Linked DNA regions of Homo sapiens. Changing the gene in region 1 together with any one later gene gives a genetic interaction. Each region holds a gene or a part of one and is shown on either strand. Other genes may lie near its edges.

The links. Genes that interact genetically often act in the same process or in processes that back each other up.
Region 2: changes in REV3L (region 1) and RFXAP impair growth when combined (synthetic growth defect), as found in Homo sapiens cells (one large-scale study listed by BioGRID).

Annotation. Positions count from the first base shown.
Region 1 is NC_000006.12:111,375,091-111,378,743, forward strand, and holds part of REV3L (DNA polymerase zeta catalytic subunit), read right to left. Parts: intron 2,754-3,653; coding exon 2,611-2,753; intron 1,668-2,610; coding exon 1-1,667. UniProt on the Homo sapiens protein: Catalytic subunit of the DNA polymerase zeta complex, an error-prone polymerase specialized in translesion DNA synthesis (TLS). Lacks an intrinsic 3'-5' exonuclease activity and thus has no proofreading function.
Region 2 is NC_000013.11:36,817,575-36,821,327, reverse strand, and holds the start of RFXAP (regulatory factor X-associated protein), read right to left. Parts: upstream 2,107-3,753; 5' UTR 1,971-2,106; coding exon 1,371-1,970; intron 1-1,370. UniProt on the Homo sapiens protein: Part of the RFX complex that binds to the X-box of MHC II promoters.

The sequences.
Region 1 (3,653 bases):
GGGAGGAGAAAGAATAGCATGTGACCGTTTTTTCCTGAAAGACAAAGTTCTTTTAATATTTTCATTATTTGTCCTTTGTTGTTTACCAGTTTTTTTCTTAGCAGATTTATGTTTTGACTTTCTTCTGTGACTTTTCTTTGGTGTTAGTGGATAAATGGGATATTTGGTTGCAGGGGAGTCGGGAACTTTTGGCCAAAAGTCCTTCAAAGGTGCAAGCTTTTTATATAGTTCCATTTTTTCTTCTGTTAATATTACTTGTTTTTCTTTAGAGTCTATTTTTCCTAGCTTCACAAGCATATTTTTTCTCCCTCTAAATCTATTAATAATAATATACTTTATGATGACAGGGGGCAGCTTTTTAGACATTTTTCTTCGTTTTCGGGATTTGAGAGTTCCATCTAAACTTTCACCAATTTCCATGGGATGAGGTAGACTAATTTTTGAGTTGTGAGTTACAAAACTTGACTCACTGTCTTCAGTCTCATAATTTACCTTGCGTTTGGCTCTAAGTGTGTATTTATTTCCATATAGTCCAAAGGACTGCTCAGTTTCTAACGTTCCATCTCCAAAGTGACAGTCTATAAAACCATCTGTGGGTGTTTTATTTTCAAAAGCTCCACGAGTGGTTTTAGTTAAATCACTAGCCAATGCATTATCCTTCTCAGGATTACTATTACAAGGATTATTTTGTATAAAATTATCTTTTGTGGATCCAGTCTCACTACTTTTGGTAGAAGTCTCCTGATGACCTGCAAGTTTCCTTTTATTCAATTTTAACCGGGATGGTTTATTGCCAGGTTGTAATTTATATGTGACAGGAGATAGTTTCTGTGGTCTAGTAAGACAGTTAGAAAGAACAACACTGGGAAAAAACATATAGTGTGCTGCTTGCTGGCTGAGGCTTGGCTTTTCTGTTTTATGTTCTTGAAATTCTTCATACCTAATTTTAAGTTTATTTAGTCCACTTTCATCAGCAGTGCTATTAAGAGAATGCACCATAGTTCTATTCTCCCCTGAGCATGACAGTAATTCACAATTTTCAGTAAATGATGAAGGGAATAAACTACTCAGAGCTGTGCTGTTTCCTTTTTCATTTCCTTCAGAGGATACTTTATTTTTTGAATGATTTAAGTCAGAAAAGTTGAAAGAATTTTTGCCCAATGTATTCTCGTTAGGGTGACGGTGCATATGTATAAAAGGGGAATCCTTTTCGATTTTTCTAATGTTTGTATATTTTCTACTTGGTACTTGTCTTGTAACAGATGGAATATCTTCTTCATAATCAAAAATACTACTTTCACAGGAAGATACTGGGAGGATCTCTTTCTTACTATTCTCTTTATGAGAATTTTCTGAATGAACAGTACTGCTTAAAGATCCAGGGTATTTCATAGAATAAGTGCTTTCGTTTGTAAAAGAAGTGACTGAGTTATCTAGACCTTTTTCTGTATTTTTGTTTGTCTGTGAAAGGTCTTCAATTAAATCTTCCTTGTTCAAAACATGGGAAGAAAGGGCACTTGTGTGTTTACACTGAAAGGTAATCTTAGCAGAAGATGAGGGTTCTAATGTAGCAGCATCTTTGTGAAAGATGGAGGGTTTAACTGAAAGCTTGCTTGTTGCAATTACAGAAGAGTGGGTTCTAGAATTTTCATTGTTCAATGGATTGTCTGAAATGAGGAGGGAAAAACAGTTTATTTCATTTTACTCTTTTAATTTTTAAGACATTTTCCCACACCAAGATATTAATGCTATCACTATGAAAAAATTACATCAAATTAAGTTTGGTTATCTTAACAAAAAGGTAATGCTTATCATTAATGACTCAATCTAAATATAGTTAGTTACAATTATTAGTCATCATTTTAAACAAATATTCCATTGATCAGAAATAGATTATATTACTATTTAGTTCCTTTGGGGCATAAGGGAAAAATACTGTCACTTTAAAAATGTTCATAAAATAATATGCTTTACATTATCACTTCAAATAAACTGAGCATATTTTTCAGTTTATTATTCTACTTGCACAACAAACATTAAAGTTTTCAAAGCTTGAATTCAGTGGTCAACAAATGTTATATCCTTTTAGAAATGAGAAGCAAATCATGTATCTAATTCTTTCAAAAGAAAAAAATCCTGAAGGACGAAACATCACTATAGCCTCCCTTAGCCAACTATATAGAAAGTATGATTACAGTTTCAAAATCAATAGAAAGTATGATTAAAGTTTCAAAATCATATTTATTTATTTATTATTTTTTTTGGAGGCAGAATCTTGTTCTGTTGCCTAGGCTGGAATGCCATGGAGCAATCACAGCTCACTGCAGCCTCAAACCCTTGGGCTCAAGTAAGCCTCCCACCTCAGCCTCCTGAGTAGCTGGGACTACAGGCATGTATCACTATGCTGGGCTAATTTTTTTAGTTTTTTAGAGACGGGGGTCCCACTACGTTGCCTAGGCTGGTCTCGAACTCCTGAATTCAAGTGATCCTCTCACCTTGGACTCCCAGAATGCTGGGATTACAGGTGTGAGCCAGAGCGCCTAGCCTCAAAATCAAATACATTTTTAGATCGTGAATAACCAATTTCTCACAGTAGACTTGTTTACTTACCACTATTTTCATCTGCAGTTCCATCTAACTGAGGTATAGAAAGACTGGCTAGAAGCAAACTGTTATCACTCCATTCCATTTCTTCTCCTGAAGATGAGTCATCATCTTCAGTTGAACTTCTGTGGGTATTTCTGCACAGTGATCTGGAGAACATTAAAATTCACTGGTGAGCATGATCATTAGTAAAGACCATCTCAGATGCAAATAATGCATCTAAGTTAACTCTATAATAATGTATCTAAGTTAACTATAATAATGTATCTAAGTTACTCTATAGTAAAACAATACAAAAAATCTGAAAATTGTAACTTCTAGAAAAGCATATTTACTTTGCTTTATTAACATGTCTTACTATAGTAACTTACAAAGAGTTATTATAATTAGACTTCATAATCCCTTTCATGTGAGCTAAAATACACCACAATTCCTGCATTCTGAATTGGAAGAAACAAGAATAAAAAGATGAGTGAAGGGGCATTGAGGTCAGGGCTGAAGAGAAAATGCTGAAGAAGAGAGAGGGTAATAGGAAGTAGTAAAGGTGTTCAGTCAACCTGACAATAACTACAAAGGGTTACTGAGAAATTCAGATGGACAGTGAAGTCCAGTCTTTAAGTTTCATCTCATATTGGTATTAACTTGATGTTTTCCCTTTTAATTGAATGGGCAAACTTTTTTCCTATCCATACCCAATTTTTTCTTTCACTAATCTCAACAATTTGAAATTATTATTATTTTATTATACTTATTATACTGGAACTGTTTTTCCATTAAGCCTTTCCAAATCACAATTTATCATAAAAATCACTCCCTTAAGAGCTGAAAGAGGTATCAGAGGTCCAGTCCAACTTTCTACCCAATGCGAAAACCTCATTTTTAACGAACCTGACACAATCTCTGTTTTTACATAATCTGTATAAGGGGCTTGCTGTCTCACAGGGCAATCTTTCCACTGTTAATGGCTTTAATTATTCATAGTTGTCTTCTTGTAATACACAAACTCTTTCAACTTCCATACATGATTCCTATTTTGTTCTCTGTAGCTA
Region 2 (3,753 bases), on another chromosome or scaffold:
GCACTTCAAGTTCAGCCTGAAACTAAGAAATTTAAAGACTTAGAATACATCCTAGGACCCTAAGACAGCTTGCAGTTAAAAAAAATTTTTTTTTTTTTTTTTTTTTTTTTTTTAAGGAGACAGGGTCTTGCTATGTCATCCAGGCTGGAATGCAGTGATGCAAACAAGGCTCACGGCAGCCTCGAACCCCTGGTCTCAAGCAATCTTCCCACTTCACCCTCCCAAGTACAGCTGGGTATACAGGCACTTGCCACCATACCTGGCTTGGATCACTTGTAACAAAATTAAATTTTTCTCTACACTAAGGGATTATATAGCTCTCACAAGAAGAAATATCTGCTTATTTGTGACAGCCTCAAAGTATACCACTAACAATGACAATAATAATGGGTAAGGTTTGCAAACTTTAGCCAGTTGCTGGACACTGTGTGAACCCTCAATATGGAATGGCTCACATATTCACAGCAACACTATGAATGACACACGATTTTAATGCCCATTTTACAGAGTTTAATAACCTATTCAAGCCACAAGGCCAGTAAATGATGCAACAGGGATTTGCACCCAGAAGTCGAACTCCAGAACACTGGTTTTACCTTTGACTCAGTTCAAATCAAACAATCCAAAAGTTTTTTGAGACTTATACCCCATTATCATCCTTTTTTTCCCCCCTCAGGGGTACTAAGAAAAGGGGTAGTGAGAACAGGGTACTAACAACAAGGATACTGAGAACAAAGTATATTAAGTATTGGGGTAGTGAGAACATGAGAACAAGGGACTAAACATAGGGGTACTGGGAACAGAGTTGTAAGAAAAGAGTACTACGTACAGGGGTACTACAGACAGGCAACTGAGTATAGCAGTACTAAAAATACGGTACTAGGAAGAGGGTTAACAGAACAGGACACTAAAAACAAAGTACTAAATACAGGAGTATTACAAATAGAGGTACTGAGAACTGGGTACTGAGAACTGGATACTGAGAATAGAGTAGTGAAAACAGAAAGAGATGACTTTCTCAGAAGTACCAACTTCATCTAGGTTCCTAAGTCTCCTTTAGCGATGAACCAGACCGATCATTTACTCTATGTCCTTCCAGCCATATCCCAGATCTATGACAGCTCTGCCGATGTCACATTATTTTTACTGAAATTTCTGCACCTATCATGAGTTCAACAGAACTGTTATTGCTTTGCACATGTTGGTATAAACTTTAATTTAGGGCAAACACTCTAATTCTCAACCACTAACCCAGTCACTGCAAACCGGCCCATTTGGAAGTGGGGAGGCAGGCCCTGCAGATGCGGTTTGCGTTAAGATCGGGTTTCTTCTTCCACCTCCCATCCCCAGGCCTCAGCTAAGTCTGATACCTCGAGTTTGACGTTTCCCGCGCTGCCAGTCGAGGCAGTCCCACCGCAGTTCAGGGCCTGGTCGCTCTTCTTCTTTTTATACTTGTCCTTGTACATCTTGTTGCGGTGTTTCTTGCACATCCACGGTTTGCGCTGCTTGGCCACCTGGCTCGTGGTCTCGCTGCAGCCTTCGTAGGTGCAGGTCTTGCTCATGCTGCCCCCACCGCTGCCCCGCCTCCGGGCGCCCCCGCTGCTGCCCTCGCCCCCCGAGTGAGTCTCCTCGTCCTCTAGATCCTCCAAACTAGCCGCGCTCTCGCCTCCCCCCGGAGGGTCCGAAGTGTCTAACAGGTCCGCCTCGTCCTCCCCAGCCTCCTCTTCGCCATCCCCGGCCCCTTCGCACAGGTACCTAACGGGCTTGCCCGCCCCAACGCTGCCCCCGGGGGCCGCAGCCTCGTCCTGCCCAGCACAGGGTTGCATCACTAGCAGGGTGAATTGAGAGGCCGCGGCCGCCACCGAGGCTGGCGCCAAGGTGGGAGCCGCAGCCGGGGCTAGGGCCGCGGGGTGGGGCACGCCGCTGGCGGCGCCCGGCCCCGCGCCCTCCGCTACACCCTGCGCCTCCATGCTGCTAAGACCTGGCCGGGGTCCACGACCCCGGGCTTTTAGCACCTGCTTGGCCTAACGGCACTTCGCGAACCAAAGACTCAGGACACGCTGGGGTAAAAGGCGCCTATACCGGGAAGGCGCCCCGACTGCGCCTGCGCGACCGCAGCCTGCGCGTCAGCGTGTGTACGCCCGCGGGCTGTCAGGGAGCGCGGCGCCTCTGGGGGCGGGGCTGAGCGCACAACCAACGGGACTGACTGCGCATGTGCGGCCGCGGCCCCTTCGGCCAGCTGGGGGATTCGTAGACAGGGTCTGGGGGCTGTGTCAGGTGAAAACCTGCAGTGGCTGGCAAGGCAGCGCCGTTTTACCTGATCCTATTGTATCTAAAGCGGTTCAAAGTATCTTCTACAGGAGTTCCAGTATGCAAATTAGGATTGTTCCTGAGCGGTCTCACGACTTGTAGTGTTAGGATGCTAATTTTATTATTTCCCCCACAAACTGCCTGCAAGGGGAGATTTGAAGCTGGGATGCAGTGGTGTCACAGCCTAGAGTCACTAGCTCGCAGTCCATGAAGGCAGAGGTGGCTTATTTGAAAATAGTGGAGCGGAGAGGGATGGGCCACACCTTTGGCCGAGTTGTATTTGCATTGAGGGATAACTTTGTTTTTTTTCTCCTGGAAACTCACTTGATTGTTAGTACTTGCTCTTTGCTGTGGCTGCTGAGATAAGTCTTAACGTTTTCGTTTAACACAGTGAAAATGTGTGAAAAGGAATACTGAATGGCAAACGTTTAAAAAAACAATGAATGTTCTACCAGTTCTATCAGTTGCTGGGCAATTGCTGGTTGTTAAATCTTGGCTTGCCCAAATCCCAGGAGAGAAAATATCCTGCCGTATCCTGAACTGTTAAGTAGATGTTCTTTTTCCCTTCATCCTATTCTTTCGCCTAGTCAGATTTCCCATCCCACCTACCGGAAAGCAATGACTTTATTCAACAAACTATAAATCCATTCACACTAAGATGTTTGGGTGCTGACATATAGGTAGATCAGTTATGTTTTAAAGAGAGGCATATGGAAGGGAGAAGGTTTGGAATTAGAGCAACCTAGGTAGTACTTCCTGTGTGACTACAGCAAGTTCGTGACAGCCTCTCCGAGCCTCAGTTTCCTCATCAGTAAAGCCTGCAGTCGGTGGTGTGCTAGCGCCAACTGATGGTAACTGGTTGCTAAAATTTCAGGAATATAATTAGCAGAAAAATTAAACACTGCTATTATTAAAAGTCTTACTACATAAACTTACAATAAGATTATATTAAAAACAAAGGGTACAAATCTCAAAACTCTTCATTTTCTAATTATTTTATTATGTTTTATCATTATCTGTGCTTTTAAGGTTATTTATGTCTATTGTATCTGTATGCGGAAATATTATTTAGTGGTGTGTTACTGCACATTTTCCCAACTCTGCCTTCAGTATGTCATGTTGATTGCTTGAAATCAGCCACTTTTGGAGTATTTACACCAGGGAAATGATCAAATGCTACGAAGCAGGTTTACACTTATTGCTGATTGTCTCTGCACTTAAGAAAGTGACAGTGAAAATGTTAATGAAGATTAAATTTAAGGCCAGGCTCAGTGGCTCCCACCTGTAATCCCAGCGCTTTGGGAGGCTCAGGCAGGTGGATCACGAGGTCACGAGTTCGAGACCAGCCTGACCAACATGATGAAACCCCGTCTCTACTAAAAATACAAAAATCAGCCAGGTGTGGTGGTCCACACCTATAATCCCAGCTACTCAGGAGGCTGA